Regions from separate parts of the Homo sapiens genome. Here region 2 is linked to region 1. The links come from fine-mapping of genetic effects on gene expression. A gene starts in region 1. The other region holds a variant in brackets. All regions are shown on one strand. Distances are between the middles of the regions. Region 1 holds the start of KCNIP1 (potassium voltage-gated channel interacting protein 1). Region 2 has its middle 24 kb from the start of KCNIP1.

Evidence for each region. PIP is the estimated chance that this variant, and not a neighbour inherited with it, causes the effect.
Region 2: its variant is the best candidate, but not a certain one, in a credible set for the expression of KCNIP1 in amygdala (GTEx, PIP 0.57).

The regions. Positions count from the first base shown.
Region 1 is chr5:170,498,097-170,508,101 of GRCh38, reverse strand. It overlaps KCNIP1 (potassium voltage-gated channel interacting protein 1), which reads right to left and starts at 4,082. Exons shown (of 8, transcript NM_014592.4): 1 at 3,469-4,082. The coding sequence starts at 3,529.
Region 2 is chr5:170,475,140-170,485,144 of GRCh38, reverse strand. It overlaps a transcript of KCNIP1 not described here. Among named protein-coding and RNA genes, the nearest start is that of KCNIP1, 24 kb to the left of the region's middle. RefSeq lists an enhancer at 1-175. The variant G/TCAGG (reference allele first, on the strand shown) is at 4,763.

The DNA of each region.
Region 1 (10,005 bases):
GTTGTCCCTAAATTCTCCTGCCCCGCTGACAAGCCCAGCAGCTGCACCTGTATGGTCCTCCTCTGGTTCTCCTCAATGCCCTAGCCTGTCTCACTTACCCATTCAAGGCCAGGAGCAGTGTCCTTGGTGTGTCATGCACATGCAAAACTGCTAGAGTCAGAAATTCTATCTGGGACTGGGATGCAGAGGCTGAATCCCAAAAGCAGGGCTCTCCTACTTTTAATTAAAGACACACAAAGATCCCAAACAGAGAGAAGGACAGGAAATGAACCTGAATATTTTTATTCAGTGGCATGGCTCTTAAATTACTTTAGATTTCTGTTGCCTTTAGAGAGCGCTCCCTGAACACCCAGGTTGGGCTGGATATCTTCTTGCAGCACTAATCATGCAGAGTTTTTGCCCTATTTAAAAACTATGTATGTTTCTAAATTGTATTATCAAGGCATTCAGGATTTTAATTGAGCAGGCTTTGATGTTTTCAGGACAAGCCACAGAGTAGAGGTCAGTGAGGGTTGAAGCAAGGGACGAGCATCTGTGTGCTGGGGTTTTTGGTCCTAGTTATCTGGATAGGGCTGGATAAGGTTTCCAGAAATGAGCTGTTAAGGCTCTCAGATGTACTGCCTACTTCGAAAATGGCCTTACTCTGGACATTTGGAAGCCCCAAACAATAGAGCCATAAATTGAATAGTACCTCAAATTTGCTGACCACTTATGTAGCAGAGACTGTGCTAAATGCTTGACTTGCATGATCCTTGAAATCCACACAACACAACAGCTATTTTAAGATGGTAACTACTACTATCTCTGTTTTATAGTTGAGGAAAACAAGGCTTAGTCATACAGCTAGTAAGTGGCAGAGCCTGAATTTGAACCCAGCAGGGAGACTGATTCCTGAGTTGAAAAATCCCAACTGCTCTCTTCCGGTTGCTTCTAATTAGATCTGAGCCTCACGTCTCTGAGATCATAGCAGCAGCTCTGGTGAGAGCATCAACCATAAAAATATTAGAATTTGAGAACCAAATGGAACCTGAGGAAATGCCTAATGTAAGTTTCTCCCTTTACAAAGAAGAAACCGAGGCCCCAGTGGGGAAAAGTGACCTGGCCAGGATAGGCTCCCTGACCACTAGCCTCCTCAGCCAGGGCTTCCTCCAGGTTTCCAAGCTGCCTCCCATAGAAGGGTCTTCTGCTGATTAGCATTCCACTATGCAAGGCAGTGAGATGACTGTGCTTCGGGGGCAAATACCTGGGGGAACATATGCAGCTGGACCCCTGGACAACTCACGCCAGTGGGCTTTGTGCAGGAAGGGCTGAGTGCCCAGTGCTTCGATAGCTTGTCTTGGGAGTCCACCCATTGGCCCCGAACCTGCTATGAGCCTCAAACGAACATTGTTGTGAGGGTTAAATGAGAGTTGTTGATAAAACACCGAGCATTATGGCAAGCACACAGTAGGGACACACTGAATGCCAGTACCCCCTCTTCTGTTTCTTAGAATCCGAGGAGACAGAAGCAAAGACCTTTGTACTCTGGGAATCCTGCAGGAATTCATCCAGGGTGAATTCCTGGATGTTTGGGGCAGGAGAAGGAAATGGTAGACAGCAATGTCTGAGCTCTTACTCTTTTCCCAGCCCTATGCACGGAGCTCCCTATTCATCATTCATTTGATTCTCACATCCTTACAACAACTTCCTCTGGGTCCCTGGTGGCTGCAGCCAACACAGTATATGAGGCAGAGTCTTCCCTTCCTCTACTTCCTACATACCCTTCCCTCCGGGAAGTAGCATACGAATTTCATGGATGAAAAACTGAGGCTTAGGGAGGTGCGGGGGACTTTCCTAAGGTCCCAGAGGCAGGGAGTGATGGAGCTGGGATTCACACCCAGACTCCACTTGACTCTAGGGCTTGAGATCTTTCTGTGACACCCAGCTCCCAGGAGAGCCACAGGCATTGAAAATATTTAAAAACAAGCCCCTGACTTTCCTGTCCCCACAGTCCCCTGGCCTCTGAGACCGCATGGTGGTCAGACAGATGATGAGGGAGAAGACCTATATTTGGCGCTGAAAATTGTCCCCAGTCAAGCAGCATCCCAGGATCTGTGAGAGGTGAGGCTTAGAATGTCAAGGCCTTGGGCTGAGCTTTGCAGACCTGTTCTGGTCAGGACTGGTAACAGGACAACCAGTCCCTTCCTTGCCAGCAGGACATGTAACTCAGCTGGACAAATGGGCCAAAGCCTCTTCCTATGTTCTAGGATGTAAATGCCAACCCAGCTTCAGCACCTAAGATCTGCACCCAGAGATCTCTTTCCTCGGGGCTCAGCCAGCCTGATGCCCCTGGGAGCTGGGCCAGAAGCTGGGACCCCTTCTTCCAGGGGGTTTCAAGGACAGCTTACTTATGGAGATCTCTGTGGTTCTAAACAGGGTGAGACCAACCAAGTTCTAAGAGGAGACTTATTGTTCACTTGGGGTCCCTTACCCCATTACACTTCTACTCACTATCAGGCCTGTAGGGTAGGAGCTTAACTCCCACCTGTATCCAGGATGGGGGCTCTGATGGTAGAATTTGAATGTTTAAGTGTCAAGCTGCTTAAAATCTTACCACTCGTAGTGACATTTGAACATTAAACAAAACAAAACCCATCATTTCCCGTTTCCTAACTGCTTCCAGTCTCTTTATTCCAACCACTAACTTTTGAACTGCTGGTAAGGAGACCTGCATTGTCCTCCAGGGCCCAACACACTGGTTCCAACTTCACCTGGACCCATTTGAGGACTCTCCCACGGATGGTGAGATCAGCCATGCCTCGGCTGGGGACAGGTGGTGAAGGAACAGCGTCCAGGCAGAAGAGACTCCACGATATTATGCTTTTTAATCCTTGATGTAAGCTCAGCTCGCAGCCAGCCCTTCACGGTTGCTCCTCCTGACTCCCGGAGCCACCAGGACATGAGGCCTGGGAGTTTTACCCCTGGCAGCAGCTGATTCCTTTTGGCTTGCAGAGGTTTTGGGGGTGCAGACAGAGCACTCTTCCTGATGAAGGGACTCGCAGGTCTGCACCTGGCATAGCCGCCTAGGAGGAGTGTGGGAGTGTGGCAGCACCCTCACTGAGTGCTCAAACGCCAGCTGTCATGGGAATGGGAAGAGCTTCACCACACTTCCACCAGAGAATCCGGTCACCCCCACCTGTGAACATGCCGCTTCCTTCGGCTCTCAGAGATTTCCCCAGGAGGAGAGTCCCGACACCTGGTGCCCCAGAGGGGTCCAGTTGCCGCTGGGGCAGACGTCCACTCCGGCTCCCTCCTCTGGGTGTTCACACCAGCCCTCCCGCCGATTTCTCTCTCCTTTGGATACAAGCACCTGTCCGGGCTCCTCGTGGAGAGGAGAGTCCGGACTAAGGGAGGCAGGTGGCACAGCCCACCTCGGCGCCTAGCACCCCCAAGCCCAGACAGGGGAACAAAAGGAAGAAGGTGGCTTACCTTTCGAGGGTCGCCTTTGTTTGGTTTGCAGAGATGAGAAGGTGCCCATGACGGCCCCCATGGCAGCGAAGACTTGAGTGCGAGTTGGGACCCCGGGCCCGGCCCCTCCCCTACCCTGGAAAGAAATCCCCGTGGTTTGTCTACTCTGAATTGGAGGAGAGAAAAGCGCCCGGCAGCTCGCCTGCAGCTTGGTATTCAGCAAGCGTGGAGGCGAGGCTAGGAGGCTTCTGGCTTCCTTCTTCAGCCCCGCACATGCAGGGACTCAGGGCTAGCCGCTCCCCGCGAGCCTTCGGAACCGCTTCCCCGCGCGAGGACCCGGCCCGGCGGTTCCCTCGCCCAGGGCCGAGGACGGTGCCCTGAAGCCTGCCTGGCACTGGACACGGGGCCAGAGCGGCCGCCCGGCCGAGGCTGCCGAGCCAGCGCCGCGTGCGGTGCGGGAGCCGCCGTCCGCCCGCCCCTCCTGCCGCACACTCGGCTCCCCTCCCTGCGCTCGGGCTGGGTCTCGGAGGGCCGAGTACCAATCATGAATGAACAGAGCCCGGACCGCGCGGCGCGGAGCCACAGCGCGCCCGCCTGCTGCCTGCTGCCTGCTGCCAGCGCTCGGGGCGAGAGTCGGAGCGGCGGAGGGGGCGGCGGAGGGGGCGGCGGGCGGGCAACTACGGAGGGGCGGGGCGGGGGCGAGGGCTGCACGGTGGGGGCGGGGGACGCCCAGCCCTGCGCCCTCACCCCTGCGCACCCTCATCTGCCGGGGTATGTGCGGGAGCCCCGGGAGCATGTAACCCTAAGAGACAGACCCGGGGCCAGGCACCTGGCTGATGGGTGAGGTTCAGGGGGCAGTAGATTGGCCCCAGGGAGACTGTGTGTGTGTATGTGTGTGTGTGTGTGTGTGTGTGTGTGTGTGTGTGTGTGATGTGCGTGCGTGCGTGTGTGTGTGTGTGTGTCCCTGTGTGTGGTGCATTGTGATTTCATTCGACTTCAAGGGAAATCTTATTTAACCCACTGCCTGAACTCATGGGGAGGGGGAAAGTCTGCCCCACCCAGAAAGGGGTGAAAAACACATCCAAATGGGTGGTCATGGGAAGAAGGTGCCGTCCTGCTCCGCGGGTCCTTGAGGGTTCTGCAGAATCCTCCTATGGCAGGGCCCACCTTCTAGTGACAGGGAGTTGGGGAGGAGAAAGGAGCCCTCAGCCCCTCTGGGCCCTTACACTCTCATTTTTCTTTTTCTTTTTTTTTTTTTTTTGAGACGGAGTCTCGCTCTGTTGCCCAGGCTGGAGTGCAGTGGTGCGATCTCTGCTCACTGCAACCTCTGCCTCCCAGATTCAAGCGATTCTCCTGCCTCAGCCTCCGGAGTAGCTGGGATTACAGGCGCCCACCACTAGGCCCAGCTAAATTTTTTTGTATTTTTTAATAGAGACGGGGTTTCGCCATGTTGGGCTGGCTGGGCTTGAACTCCTGACCTCAGGTGATCCACCCGCCTTGGCCTCCCAAAGTGCTGAGATTACAGGCGAGAGCCACCCCACCCGGCCTGCTCTCTCATTTTTCTGTTTCTTTCCTCCTTGGTTCTACCTCTTCTCCCTTTCCAGCTCAATAATTCATTAGCCATCAGCTCCTGGGCACGGGTTGTTAGTGCTTGAAGGGGCAATGATTAGATTTAGGAAGCCATTTCCCTTCTGTGAGTGGCGTCTCACCCAATGGGCAAAGTTTGCGTCCCTGCCTGTGGACTCAAAGCCTTGTGGTGTTGAATTGCAAGGTTTGCTCCCTGGAAGGTGGAGGAAGAGCTTCCCCTCCCCCAAGTCTGAGCTGCTTGGGTTCCCACTGAGACCCATTTTGATTGACACTGAGGATCCTTTGCCCAAGCTGCCCCCTACAATCCCACCCAGCCATTTTCTGTCTGCCACACAGATACACACCATGCTAGCAGTTCACAGAATACCCGGATGTATGGCCTCATAAACAAGCATGCATGCCCAGAAAGTCCCACAAACATATGGGCGCAGGTCCTTAAGTCCGCACAGACATTGCTATTGTACACACAGACAGACCCAAGGCTCATAATACACCTACAGTTGCCCCCCACGAAGGTGGAGAGACACACAAACACACAGGCATGCAGACGCACACACAGCAAAACAGCATGACAGTCACCACATTCACACAGGCTCAATGCCACATAGGCACAGAGTTGAATCCCCAGGATACAGGCCCCTTGAGAGCTGCTTCCCCTAATGCCAACCCATGAGCTGTCCCCTCAGGGCCACAGGTAGCCTGTGACTTGGCCAGGGTCCTTGAATAGTTTTCTTCACCTGTGCAGCATTTATTGCTTTTCTGCAATCCCAGCATGTGTCCTGTTTTGTGCAACAGGGGAGGGGCACTTACTAACATACTTCCTTTCCTTTGCATTGCCCACTGCTGTGCAACCACATTGTCCACGTGATGCCCACCAAACCCCTGTGAATTAAGCAGGTGCCTGATCATTACCCCAGAGAGAAATTGAGGCTTACCTTGTGTTAGAAATTTGCCTGAAGTTGCCCAGCCAGGATGTGGGATTAGAACTTGGGTTCCAGGCCTCTGTCGTGGTCTCCTGGGGAACCCCTGCTCACAGATGAGGGCACTGAGCCAGAAAGACCTGCTGGGGGTCCCACCAGATTCACAACCTCTGCTCTCCTAACTGCCAGCTCAGGGCTTGTCCAGGCCAGGGAGGCCTGGAATCCTGGAAGATGGAGCAGGGGCTGGTCCCTGCTTCCCTCCTGCCTTCTCTGTTCGAGAAGAGGGCATGCGAGGCTGAAGCTTGGGGTCACTAGAGGACCCAGTGGGATATCCAGGATTCAGGGAACAGAGGAGAGCTCTTTGCTGAGGAGAAAGTTAAGCCACCCTGGGTGTCTTTGCCAACTTGTCAGGGATACCACTGGGTGAGCACCAAGCTACTTCCCCCTTGGGGCTCTGCTAATTTTCATGGTACCTGAATGACCATAAGGACAGCACTTGAGAGGTCACAAAAGGCTAGAATGTCATCCTCTCATTTCTGCTTCCCCACAACCCACTGAAGAAGCAGAGTACAGATGACTTGCTCCATTTTGCAGATCAGAAATAGCAAAGTGCTTCTGGACGTGTTTGCAATTGGCTGCCTCTGAACAGTAGGTATAAAGTGAAGTCACCAAAATAAAATCCAAACCATTGAACATGAATTATGAGGTCTTTTTTGTGGCCTGTGGCTTCTTCTACAAATCCTCCCTGACCCCTGGTGTTCCCTTTGTGGCTCAGCCACCCAGACCCCTCACTATTTCTCAGATGCGTGTTGTGGTTCTCCTTCAGGGCCTTTGCACGTGCTGTTCCCCTTGCCTGGAATGTTCCTCACCTCTTTCTCCTTCTGGCCACCTGCTGCTTACCCTGGAATATCTACTGCAGATGTCATCTCCTCCAGGGATCCCTCCCTGGCCCTGAGTCGGTGCCCTGCTTGTGGTTTCCATAGCACCCAGGGCTTCTTATCAGAGCACTCCTTACTTTGTTTCTCATTGTTCCTTTCCTTGCCTGTCTCTCCCTCTGGACTGTTTTAACTGCTTTACATACTGATTTAACTCTCTACTTTCTGCTTAACCTCCGGTTTCTGACAGGGGTGCAGCCAACCTATGCTGAATAAATGAATGAGTGAGTCTCTTTTCTTTGCTCAGTGACCCAGTTAGTAAGCAGAAACTGATGATTACCAGATCATCCTTGCCCCTTAAAGGAAGACACATGCTCTGCCAAGTGAAGATTCATTCATTCACTTATTTATTCAACAAATATTCATTCATTCATGTATCTACCATGTACCAGATATTTACATGCACAATAGCTCATTTATTCCTGCGGACGCCTTGTGACATGGGTATTATTTGCAGATAAATACACACACATACGCACGTGCCCACTGTACAATGCAGCCAACATCACCCATGAGATGCTCACAAAGAATGTGTCTAAGTAGAAGAACACAGGTAAGTGTGAGGGGCAAGAGAGAAAGATGATGATAACAGGCCCTCTGCCTGCCTCCTGGGAACTTGCAACAGAGAGCAAAGAACTGCATGGGGAGAGAGGGAGTGACAAAATGAATGTGCAGAGGGAGTGCTGAAGAAGCCTCCCATCAGTCACCCTGACTGCAGGAGCCATTTGTCCTGTTGTCCCTCCCATGATGTACTCAATACAGCGACCTTGCCAGCCCCATCCAACCTGAGCTTCAGTGGCTGTTGCTCCCTTTACTCTGGAAGGTGAACTAGCTCATGCACTTTCTCCAGCTCTGACCCCTCCCTCATGCACCCCGGTGTGGACTGAATGTTTGTGTCCCTCCAAAATCCCTGTGTTGAAGCTCTAAGCCCCTGTATGGCTGTATTTGAAGAAGGGACCTCTAAGGAACTAATGAAGGTTAAAAGAGGTCATAAGGGTGGGGCCCTGATCTGATAGAGTTAGTGTCCTTACAAGGAGAGACTCCAAAGACCCCCCACGCACAAAGATACCATGTGAGCACACAGGGAAAAGGCAGTTGCAACACAAGGTGAGAGGCCTCACCAGACACCAACCCTGCTGGCACCTTGATCTTGGACTTCCAGTTTTCAGAACCATGAGAAAATAGATTTCTGTTGTATAAGCCACCCAGACTGGGGTATTTTTTGAAGGCATTCCAAGCAGACTGATGCGCAACCCCAGTGTCAATCCATGAGCTCAGAAAGTTCTGGACGCAAGGCCTTCCTTCTGCCATAAGCCTCTATATAGGACTCCTTAGGCAACCCCTCTAAGGTTGTTCAGGGAGGAAGGAGTGAGATTGTCAGACCTGCAGGAATCCTGTTAAAACATGCATGTGCTTGTCTGAGTTTATGTAACACACAAGCCCTGTTCTTTCCCTCCCTCCCCCTCTCCTTTCTTCCTCTTTGTATCTCTTTCTTTCTTAATTTATTTCTTCCTCCCTGCTGCCTCCTTCCTCCCTACTCAGTGCTCCCTTAGCCATGTTTCTTCTCATCCTTATGGACAACAGTAGTTCCTTCCAGGCACAGAGGTAGCATAGAGTCAGATTGAGAGCATTAATTTGGGAGGCTGCTAGAATTGGGTTCAAACACTGAGCTTGCCCCTTTACTCTGAGACTGTGGGCATGATGAGTACGATCTCTGAACCCTGCTTTCAGCTTCTTGTGGATTACTTTCATAATTCCTTTAGTAAGTGGTAGTGTTGCTGTGAGGGATTGGTGACATGATGTTTGTGGGGCCCTTAGCAGGTGCCTGGCACATAGAGTGGCCCATTATTGAAGGTGGACTGCCCTATTCCTGTTGCTGTGGGCCAGACATCATGCTGGGTTACAGGGGTATAAAAATGAGTAAGCCACAGCATTTCCCTCGGCTCCCATCTTTGCTCTTCATCTGTTTGATAGGAAATCTATTCTCAGGGTCCCCATCTGGTATTAAAAGACTCAGATTAGTTAAGGAAGGGAATGCAGTTGGCACCTGATTATGTGCAATTCAGCACTATGCTTGCTGCTGTCTTGTACCATTTCCCAAATGTTCTGCATGCATAAGTCTGGCCTCAAATAGACTGGGAGCTTTTAGAAAGCAAAGGCCGAGTTTCCTGCTTTGCATACCCCACCTCCACCGCCCCCATCCACCGCCACTCAGCCTGGCCCAGAACATCCTAAGTGTGCTACAAATACTCAAACTGAGATCCTTCAGGGCAGGGGAAAGGGTGTCATCATTTACCCCTGAGCTCATATGAACCCAGTCCCATGTCCCCTGGTATGTACACCTGGCCGTTAGCCTCCTCATCTGTGAAACATGAACCCAATCATGTCAGGGGATTGTTGTGAGAATGGGGTAAGATAAAGTAAAGGGAAAGCACTTGTCTCTCTGTAGAGCACTCTGCAAATGTCCTTTATTGTTATTTGCTTTGGGGCTCATTGGATCATTCATTCATTCATTTATTCAATGAATATTTATTAAGCACCATCTACCTGCCAGGCGCTATTCTAAATATATGGATCAATAATGAGCAAGAAGAGGCAAGAGTACCTGCTCTCAGGAAGCTGGAGGTCTAGGGCTGAAGAAAATCAAATCATCTCCTCATTGCAAATTGCATTCAGGCTAGGAAGGAAAGAGTGGTGCAGTAAGTTCAGGGTAGCAGGTGCTTGGAGAAGCCAGGTATCACCTTGTGTGAACAGTGAAGTGATGACATAGGACATATAGATCTTCAGAGGGCAGGGAAGTAGATATGAGTTTCAGGTCAAGCAGATCAGGCTTAAAGTCCCGGATTTGTTTTGTGACTTTGGGCAAGTTATTTGACCTTTGAGCCCCTCAATTTCCTCATGTTTGCAAGGAGAACAATCTCAGCAATGTCGTTGGAGGTCGCAGGGTGAGGCTGAAAGTGATCGTGATTACAAAAGTGCCTGACACAGGGTCTCCCTGGCTGGAACACAGTCCTGATTCAGAAAACACAAACTCCATGCCTCACTTTCCCCTTCCAGTTCCCTTTGCTTGGACCTTCTCCCCTACCTCCCCAGGAGGAAGAAAAGACCTTTGAATA
Region 2 (10,005 bases), 23 kb after region 1:
AACATGGAGAAATCCCGTCTCTACTAAAAATACAAAATTAGCCGGGCGTGGTGGCGCATGACTGTAATCGCAGCTACTCAGGAGGCTGAGGCAAGAGAATTGCTTGAAACTAGGAGGCAGAGATTGCAGTGAGTGGAGATTGCGCCACTGCACTCCAGCCTGGGCAACAAGAGTGAAACTCCATCTCAAAAAAAAAAAAAAAGAAAAAAGAAAAAACAAAAAAAAGAAAGACCCAGCTCTGAGCCCACTGGGTGTGGCTACAGAGAGGGAGGGTGGCAAATGGAAGAAGATGTGGAGAGGGCAGATAAGTGAGCCAGAGACACGGAAGGAAGAAGGGAGAAGCAGAACGCAGAGAGAGGGTGGAAAGGTGGAGGAGGGTTTGAGAGGCAAAGGGCGAAAAGGAGCCTGGCTAAGAGAGATTTGGGAAAGGAAGAGAGGGAGAGGGAAAGAGGGAGGAGAGAGAGAAGGGGAGGGGGAAACGGGTAGAGAGAAGGACATGTTGAGAGGAGAAGAGAAAGAGAATGGCAACAGAAAGAGAAGAGGAAGAAAAGACGAATGGGTAGACAGAAACAGAACAGAGCAATGGAATGAAAAAAGGAGAGACAAGGTGGGGAGCACACAGCCTTGGAGGGAGAGAGGATGCCAGAGGGAGGCCCGGCAGCCACCAGGCTCTTTCCAGCTTCCCCAACGTGCGATGGAGGGCGTGCTGGCTGGGAGTCACCTGCCAGCCTCCTGGAGGGCCTGCACCTGATCAGCTTGTTTTCGCCATCTGAAGCTCTAAATGGTCTATTATCACAGAGAGAGCTCTTCACGTGTTTCCTCCCACCGCCGCCCCCGAGGAACACGTGCTGTATTTGTGAGGTGACTCATCTGGCTGCCACAACCTCTGGGATCCCAGGCAGAATGCACGTTAGGAGTTCACCTTCAATTGGCCACAGGGCGGAGGAGACGAGGCCTCAGTGGGGAGAGGGTGTGGAAGGAGCAACTTGGATGTGCCAGTCTTCTATCCTGTGGGGGTCGGGCTGATGCAGATGGCCAGCGGGATGCTCTGTGGGGGGATGGCATGATGTGAGTGCCCCCTGCTCCCTGGTGCCTTTTTTAGGCTGCCAGTCTCACCGAGGGACCTGAGAACTTGTCTAAGAAATTCCTGTTTCTCTTGGCAGCAAAGTGATGAGGTGGAGAATGGACACTCTCTCTCCCTTCTGGCCACAACTCAATTCCCCCAGGCTGTCTAAGTGCATCCTACTTCTCCTTTGTCACATTCATCAGTCATCACGTCACACTCATTGTGAAGTATTCTCATTATCATTGCGTCTTGCATGCCAGTAGACTGAAAGCTCCCTGACTGCAGAATGAACCAACGAATGAACCTATTTGCACCTATTTGGGAATCTACTTGCACCTATTTGGGAATCTACAGATGCTGCGTTTTTATCCCATGGAGGTATTTTTGACAACCATAAGGAAGGTGAAGTTCAGAGACAGGCAGCCACTAACTTGCAGGATACAGCTGTAAAGATGAGTGGGGGATTTAACCAACCCAAATGTGACTGATTGTAGAGTTGTCCCAACCATCTGGAACCTTGCGGCCCCACACAGATCACCATTGACATGCATTACCCAAGTTATGGAGTGATTGGTACTCTCTTCTTGCATGTTAACCCAATACAACCAGCCAGATATCCTTAAAGAAAAAGAAGCGAGAGGGGCTGTAGCAGACAGGAGATGTGGTCTTAAAATGGAGAGGATGGCTAGGTCCACTTTAAGGGGATTTAGAAGGTGACTGCAGATCTGTGCAATATCCCAGTGATGGTCACTAGAGAGTGCAGGAGTTGCATCTCCTCCTGGGGAGGGAATGTTGGCTTTCATCTTTTTAGTCCAAAGGTCCCCAGCCTGGGATCACCCTAGGGTGTTCCCACCACCCTGGGTTCCTCTTGCCTCATAGTTACCTATGATTTTCAGGCCTGGATGAGAGGCAGGGCGAGTGAGCTCCATGGAAATACCTGTCTCCACAGCCTGCAGGTGCACACACGTACTGCCCAAGCTATCCGGCTCTGCGGGCCCCAGTTCCACTTTTGACTCCATCTGTCCTTGGAAACAAAAGGGAAGAAAGGCTGTTTCTTCCACCTCATACTTTAATTTAAAATTTAGGCTATGTTTTCTAGGGATGCATGGAATCTAGTCATGACCTATTTGAAATACTGAAAGACCAGATAAAACCTCTCAGGACAGAAGGGGTGGGACAATAGCACCAAAATGCTTCTCCTGATAATTGTCCCAAACTCATACCTCTAAACATCACCAGCGCTGTTTCAGTGGAAGGCAGAATTGGTGGAAGAAGGCTGTGGAAGTTATTATAATTTTGGAGCTAATAAAAACCTCTCTCAGACAGGCTTGGCCTTGGACGTTACTTGACTCCCACAGCATACCAGATGAAATCTGGTCTCTGGGGACTTTTAAATCATCAATACCCAAGCCTCAGCAAAGACAAATTACATAAGAATGTCTGGGAGCTATGGCTTTTGGGGAGAGTGATTCCTCAAAACACTAACATCAGATATATCTAATTCCAGGCTCTGCCACCGCTCATCTGTGAGTCCTAGAGAAATCACTTCAGTTACTTGATCCGTGGTTTCCCCAAAAGTAAAATGAAGCAAATCATGGTGCAAATTTCATGGGGCTGTTGTAAGGGTTTTATGATATAATAGCTGCAAAAGGCCCCGTACTGTGCCTGGCACACATTAGGGATTCAAACATTGGCCATTGTAATTTTACTGTTATTATTCTTATTGATAAATATTGACTAATCGCTGGCTAAAATTATACCCTTCTTTGAACCCTGGGGAAAGTATATGAACTTGATGGTAGATGGGCACTGCTGGGGGAAGATTAATGGAGGTGTCCTGTGCTGCCTAAATAATAAATCTCTTCTCAAAGTGGACTCCAAGCAGAAGTGTCTTTCCTGTTATCAGCTGGTTGGAAAATATTAATATCACCCACATTCTCAATTGGCCTAAAACACCACCACTAGAGGAAATGCTAACATGGCTGGCTTGGTTTAAGACATAGACTGCAAAGCATCCCGTAACCACAGCCAACATTCTGTTAATCTTATCAGAGGGAAGCAGAATGCTTTAGCAGCTGATGGAGGGCAGGGATTTAAAGAATTCACTTTACTACCTACAGAAACAAAGAACAAGACTTGGAAACGGGGGCTCAGAAGCAAGAAGGGATGATTTCAGTTCTGATATGACCATACAGACCACTCAGGGAAAAACCCACCATGGATGAGTTCCTTCTTGTCACTATGAAATAAACTATAAAGAGCGATTGCTATAAAGCATGGGTGGGGTCATTCTCAATATTTCTTTCTGTCAAGGTAATAAATCCCAAATTCATAAGCCCCTTCAGATAAGGTTAGATGCAGGCCCCTCACTAAGGTGAACCTGACCTTACTTCTACACCCTTCAATTGAGTGACCAAGGATTGATGAGAAATATCAAGTATTTCATAAATATTTATTTTCTAAATATACAACTATAGAAAAGTGAGGTGTAACATATAGCTTGGATGAAGGGTTAAAATGTTAAGTATCTCATTGAGAAAAATGTGTTTGACATTTTTACATTAGAACAACATAATGGAGCAATGCTCACGCTAAACTGGGAACACTAATGTGAACTCAACTTAAATATTTTCCCACTTCTGTCACTAACAGTGGACACAGCAGCAGCAGCAGCAGCAGCAGCAGGAGTAGTACTAATGCCCACCACAACTCTCCTGTACCCCTAAATGGCCAGACTTTGTCTCTAACAGTTTTCTCCACTTAAAGAAACAGGGGCTCTTTGGAAGGGTTGTCCTGAGTAGGGTAAAACAAATGGTTTAAGCCTGGAAGTTTCTTTTGTAACCAGAAAGCAAGGATGCTTTCTAGAATATCACAGGGTGGTTCTGGAAGGACTAAGAAGCTAGATTAAAGAGGTTTCCTCTGGTCAAGCTCTGAGATTTTGAATATCAAATAAGATTGATGGCTATAATCAATTAAAACACATGGAGTCTGTGAAGAGCTGTAAGTTCCTAATGAAGCTATGAAGAGAAAAGTTGATGTAAATGGCAAATGCGATAGGGTTTTATTTCATATTATTTTTAATGGCAGATTTATATATGGGTGATATTATTTCTTCTATTAAATATATGTTGGGTTATTAAGCATCGATAGGCACTTTTCTCTATCCTTGTAAGAAGGAAAGAGTGAATTTTGAATACAACTAATAGTCCTGGAAAAAAATAGAAATTAGTAGTCATGCTTGGTAACATGTAAAGAGGGAACTGATAACATGGAAGGATAATTGGCCAAATGTGCTCGTAAGGACAGCAAACTGCAGGGTTTAAATTCCTCGTCTTGGCCGGGTGCAGTGCCTCACGCCTGTAATCCCAGCAGTTTGGGAGGTTGAGGTGGGTGGATCACTTGATCCTGGGAGTTTGAGACCAGCCTGTGAAATATGGAGAGACCCCATCTCAAATACAAAAAATACAAAAAATTAACCAGGCGTGGTGGCATGAGAATCTCTTGAACCCAGGAGGCAGAGGCTGCAGTGAGCCGAGATCACAACACTGCACTCTAGCCTGGGTGATAGAGCGAGACTTTGTCTCAAAAAAAAAAAAAAAAAATCCCTAGTCTCCTAGGAGATGAAGCGCACTTTAGGAAACACTCTGGTCTCAGAAAAGGATACCAATGTGAAGGCACGGACTTTTATATTCTTAG[G/TCAGG]CCACATTTAAGCTCAAGTGCAATAATGTTGGGAGACACTTTATCAGTTTCAAATAAGAATCAGTAACCCCAGAGCTGGCTGGCCTGAGATTATTTTTCTTTTGGTTCTGAAAGAAATTTGTATTCTTAGGAGAAACTGTATCACTTCATACTCTAATCCTAGGAAACGATCGCATTGACTCTAAGAAAGTAACAGAGAAAATATAAGAATAAGTATAAAAGTACTTTTTAAAACCAATATATACCCATAATCTTCATGCCTTTGTAACCAGTGTAAAGGTAAGTGTGCATATATATTTTTCAATCAGTATGACGTTTTGTGTGCATTTTTGCTGACTTTTTAGGTGTTTGAAACATTTAAAAGGGTCTGACATATTAAACTTATGGTTTTATTTAAAAGTGTTGGAGAGTGTGGTTAAATAATTTTGTAAACAATGGTTTATAAGTTTGGGAATTTTTAATTGTTTCAATTTTTAATAAGTTTTTGATTTATTAATTGTGCAGATAGTGTTCGAATGTCAAGAGGAATATTGTTTAATAGATGTATAAAATTCGGAAGTTAAATGTTAAACAAAGCACAAATATGAATCAGGAACACTAATCAGTGCTTTGTTTAATATTTAACTGATTGCTGAGTCAGTTTTGGTGACAAATATCCTACCAATGCATCACAGCCAAGATTCCAGAGCCCCCATGTGGGCAAAACAACTCGGTATTACCCTTATGGAACTGTAGTAAAAGCAGAAGGGACAGATACATTTTTCCTTGGGGTATGTCATGCTGAGCTTGCATTTTACTATGGCGATTCTTAGAAAAGGAGAAGTCTTCATGTCTTAAAGGAATTGATCAAATGGAGCTTTTCTTGGTCCTTTGCAGAAGGTGATTTAATTCTTCTATTAAATATATGTTGGGTTATTAAGCATCGATAGGCACTTTTCTCTATCCTTGTAAGAAGAGTGAATTTTGAATACATCTAATAGTCTTGGAAAAAAATAGAAATTAGTAGTCATGTTTGGTAACATGTAAAGAGGGAACTGATAACATGGCAGGATAATTGAGGGGGATCTTTGGGACAGGAGTCCTAACCTCTCCCCCAGTTTTCTCTGGTGCTTTCTGCTAGTGCCTGCTAAGACCTGAAGTTTACTTGTTTTCCATCAGAACTCTGAGATTCTTATTTTATTAAACCATATAATCAGGATTTTATAGTCTAGGAAAACATAGACCATTACCTGCTCAGCGCCTCCAGCTAGTGACATCTTAGAAATACAAGCCCCTAGTTCTCTTAGTAACCAAAGGAGTGGAGTCCTTTCTGAAGGCTTGAATTCTATCTGACACTACACATTTGTGGATTTCTCTGCTTTGATGCCTTCTTGACAGATAACGTGCAATCCCCCTTTTCAAAGTCTAAAGAAAACAGGATTGAAACATTTGGGAGCAAATGCCCTGCAAATATGGCCAACCTTTTTTTTTTTTATCTTCCTTTTCATTAACCACATTGAGAGTCATGCATGAAACTTAGATCTATATTGGTGTTTCATTTATAGGAAGTGTTCAGCTGTCTGTCATTTTTATTCACCCTAAGCATCTTGAACATCCTACCGAACTGTAATCTTGAAAGCTAATGCTTCATGAGAAACCTTTTCTTTTTTTCTTTAGAGCATACAAGTGTGTCCTATTTAAAAGGAACCCAAGATGCCAAAATTCTCACATAGAAACTTAGACATCTTGGCAATTGTTCTTGCAATGGAAAACTGGGCTTGGTAGAGAGATGGTTCCCCGGGGAAACTGACCATGGTGGAGTCGCACAGTCTTGCAGTAAGCCTTCGGACACAGGCTGAGTTCAGAGTCCCTAGGGCCATCTGGAGCTGCCAGCCAGAAAGTAACACACCTTTGTGAGGATGGCAGCCCGAGGGATCTACACTCCATCAGGACTGCCATTAACAGCAGGTGTCCTTATGGGACTGGAAGGCCGGGGAAGCTTGTCCTCCAGCCATGAGCGTTGCATAGTCTCTCAGTCCATTAAAAGAGCCAAATTAAAGGAACATGCATCCTTTTCCTAAGTCTGTGATATCTTTCTAACCATTATGCTCCCAAACTTTATGATAATCATGTAATAACTAAACAAGGAACTTACAAAAGGTATCAAATGAATACAACTACAATAAAGTCCATTTGGATAAAGCCCCAAATCTTTACCTGCCCCTTCCCGCCCCAGGCCTTCTATCATTTGACCACTGTTGCCTCTCTGGCTTCATCTTGGCAGGTCCCCTCATGTGCCCTCTGCACTGAAAGATGGAGGTAGGTGTCTTGGACTGAACCTCCCAGGAGGCATGAAATTCTGAGATCCTTCAATGAGGCTTCTGCCATGAACCCTCCCCTGACACCTCCCCAGCAACCAGTTCAATTGGTACCATCTTCCCTGGAGGCACTTCTATTGGAGTTTTTTTGTCATACTCTACTGCAAATATTAATTTATAGATCTATGAAGATGTGGGCTCTGAGGACAGGACTGTGTGGGATTCATCGCTATCTATCCAGTGGCCTGTACAGCACAACACTCAAAAATGTTTGTTCAAGGAGTAAGCAACAGCCACTAATGACTCCAAACCTGGCTATCAAGTAAATAGATAAGAGCCAACCCGGCCAGGTGCTTTCACTCACACCTCTAATCCCAGCACTTTGGGAGGCCGAGGCAGGCAGATCACAAGGTCAGGAGTTCAAGACCAGCCTGGCCCACACGGTGAAACTGTGTCTCTACTAAAAAATACAAAAATTAGCTGAGCATGGTGGCATGTGCCTGTAATCCCAGCTACTTGGGAGGCTGAGGCAGGAGAATTGCTTGAACTGGGACCCAGGAGGTGGAGGTTGCAGTGAGTGGAGACTGTGCCACCGCACTCCAGCCTGGGCTACAGAACGAGACTCTGCCTCAAAAACAAATAAACAAAACAAAACAAAACAAAAAAGCCAACCCAGGAAATAAACACCTTTAGAGGGCAGTTATATCTCAGATTTTAACAAGAAATATTTACTTTCTAATATATATGTGTATATATATATATGTAATATATATGTGTATATATATATACACACACATCCCCAGAGTGAATTTACAGGTCCAAGTAACATATACTTTCTGATATATATATATATCTCCCCAGAGTGAATTTACAGGTCCAAGTAACATATAGGAAATGTCTTCATTTCTCAGCCCAAGAAAAGGCCATTTATTTACTGACTTATGTATTTACTTACTTCTACTTTTTTGAGCAGTCTTAGGTTCACAGTAAAATTGAGCAGAAAGTACAGAGAATTCCCATTTATCTGTCTCCATACACTTACAGCTTCCCTCACTTCAACATTCCACATTACAGCGGTGCATTTATTACAATCTGTCAACCGACATTAACACATTATTACCACCCAAAGTCTATAGTTTACATTAGGATTCACTCTTAGTCTTGTAGGGAAGGCCATTTATAATGTACATTCCCAAACTGTCTCTGTGCTTGGTAATTTATGTTGAACATTACTGCGAGGATGTGGTGAGAATATTTTCATTTTTCATGAATAGAAGGATCTTGAGACTCTTTGATATATGGTAGAGAGTGATGTGTTAGCTGGTGGGATAACAATGCTTTTCCTTAAGAGTGGATGTCTAAAGCAGAAGTCAGCAGAAACAGGCGATTTTCTGTACCAAAATTTGCCTTACGATCAAAATTTCAGGCCCGCAGCCATTTCAGCGGGTCATAGCACTATCCCAAGACCGTAACTTTGATACAAGCCACCACTGAAAGGTCAAAATTCAAGACAAATTGTCATACTGCTATTTTTTAAGGCTAAACAAAAATTTTTCTATTCATATTGTGTTTATCAACAGTGTGCTTTTAACTAATTAGCCATGAAGAAGGGGGAGATTGGAACAGAGGAGAAGTTTACCATCTAATGTATGACACCAAGACAGTTCAGTCAAAATGTAGAGAAAACAGAATCTGTTTGTTCCGGCTGGAATTGAGAGGACAGTTCAACACTTCGATATTTCATCATCTGTTATTGTAATTAGTCAGAGATATGAGCATCTAAAAATTTGGAACTGCTAATTAGAAACAAGTTTAGGCTGGGTGCAGTAGCTCATGCCTGTAATCCCAGCACTTTGGGAGGCCAAGGCTGATGGATTGCTTGAGCTCAGAAGTGAAAGACCATCCTGGGCAACATGGCAAAACACTGTCTCTACAAAAAATACAAAAATTAGCGAGGCATGGTGGCACAGGCCTGTAGTCACAGCTAGTCAGGAGGCTGAGGTGGGAGAATCACTTGAGGCTGCAGAGGTTGAGGCTGCAGTGAGCTGAGATCGCACCACTGCATTCCAGCCTGGGTGACAGAGTGAGACCCTGTTTCAAAAAAAAAAAAAAAGTTTAAACCAAAATTGTTCTAATAATCATTTCTTCTCCCTGACCCCAGAAAAAGCATGGGCCACTTGTCACCCCTCAACCTACTCCTGACAAGGGGGTAATATTGGATGATTCAGGATTTGGCTCTGAGCTGGGAATAGGATCAGTTTCTTCTCGGCAGGGGGTGGATTCCTGAACAAAATTGGGTCTGTTAGTAAGGAAGTAGGGGGAAGGAGGGGAGGACATGGAGGTGGGCTAGATAATCAGTCTGTTTTGGCTTTGAGGTCCTTTGTGGCTCTCAAATAAGAACCCCCCACAAAGAGGCCCTGCTGCAGTTGTGTTTGGAGCAGCATCCAGAACAGAAAGATATATTGAGATTTCCTGTAACTTTGTGACTTCTCCTTTTGTTTTGTTATTTTTATCTCCTCTATTTCCCTGTCTTACCAGCAGTGAGAGCCCTTAACTTAGAACAACCTAAGAAAAGCTGCTGTCTTGTTCCAGGACAGCCGTGTGGGAGTCACCTCTCAGTGGGTCTGCAGCAGGAGTCAGGGAGGTTCCTCCCAGCACCGCCCTCCTCTTCTAGACAGAAGCAAGTGGACTAGCTTCCGAAGCTTTGTTCGAATAACACTTAGGCCATGCCTGGCACGCAGGAGCTGGTCAATGTGAGGCTGAAATAAATGTGCAGAAATGGACATGGTAGAGAGGGAAGCCAAGCAATGAAATAAAAAAGCTTGGAGGTTGGTCACACTGAGAGGTGAAGCCAGCTGGACTTCTGGGTCGGGTGGGGACTTGAAGAACTTTTCTGTCTTACAAGGGGATTGTAAAATGCACCAATCAGCACTCTGTAGCTAGCTA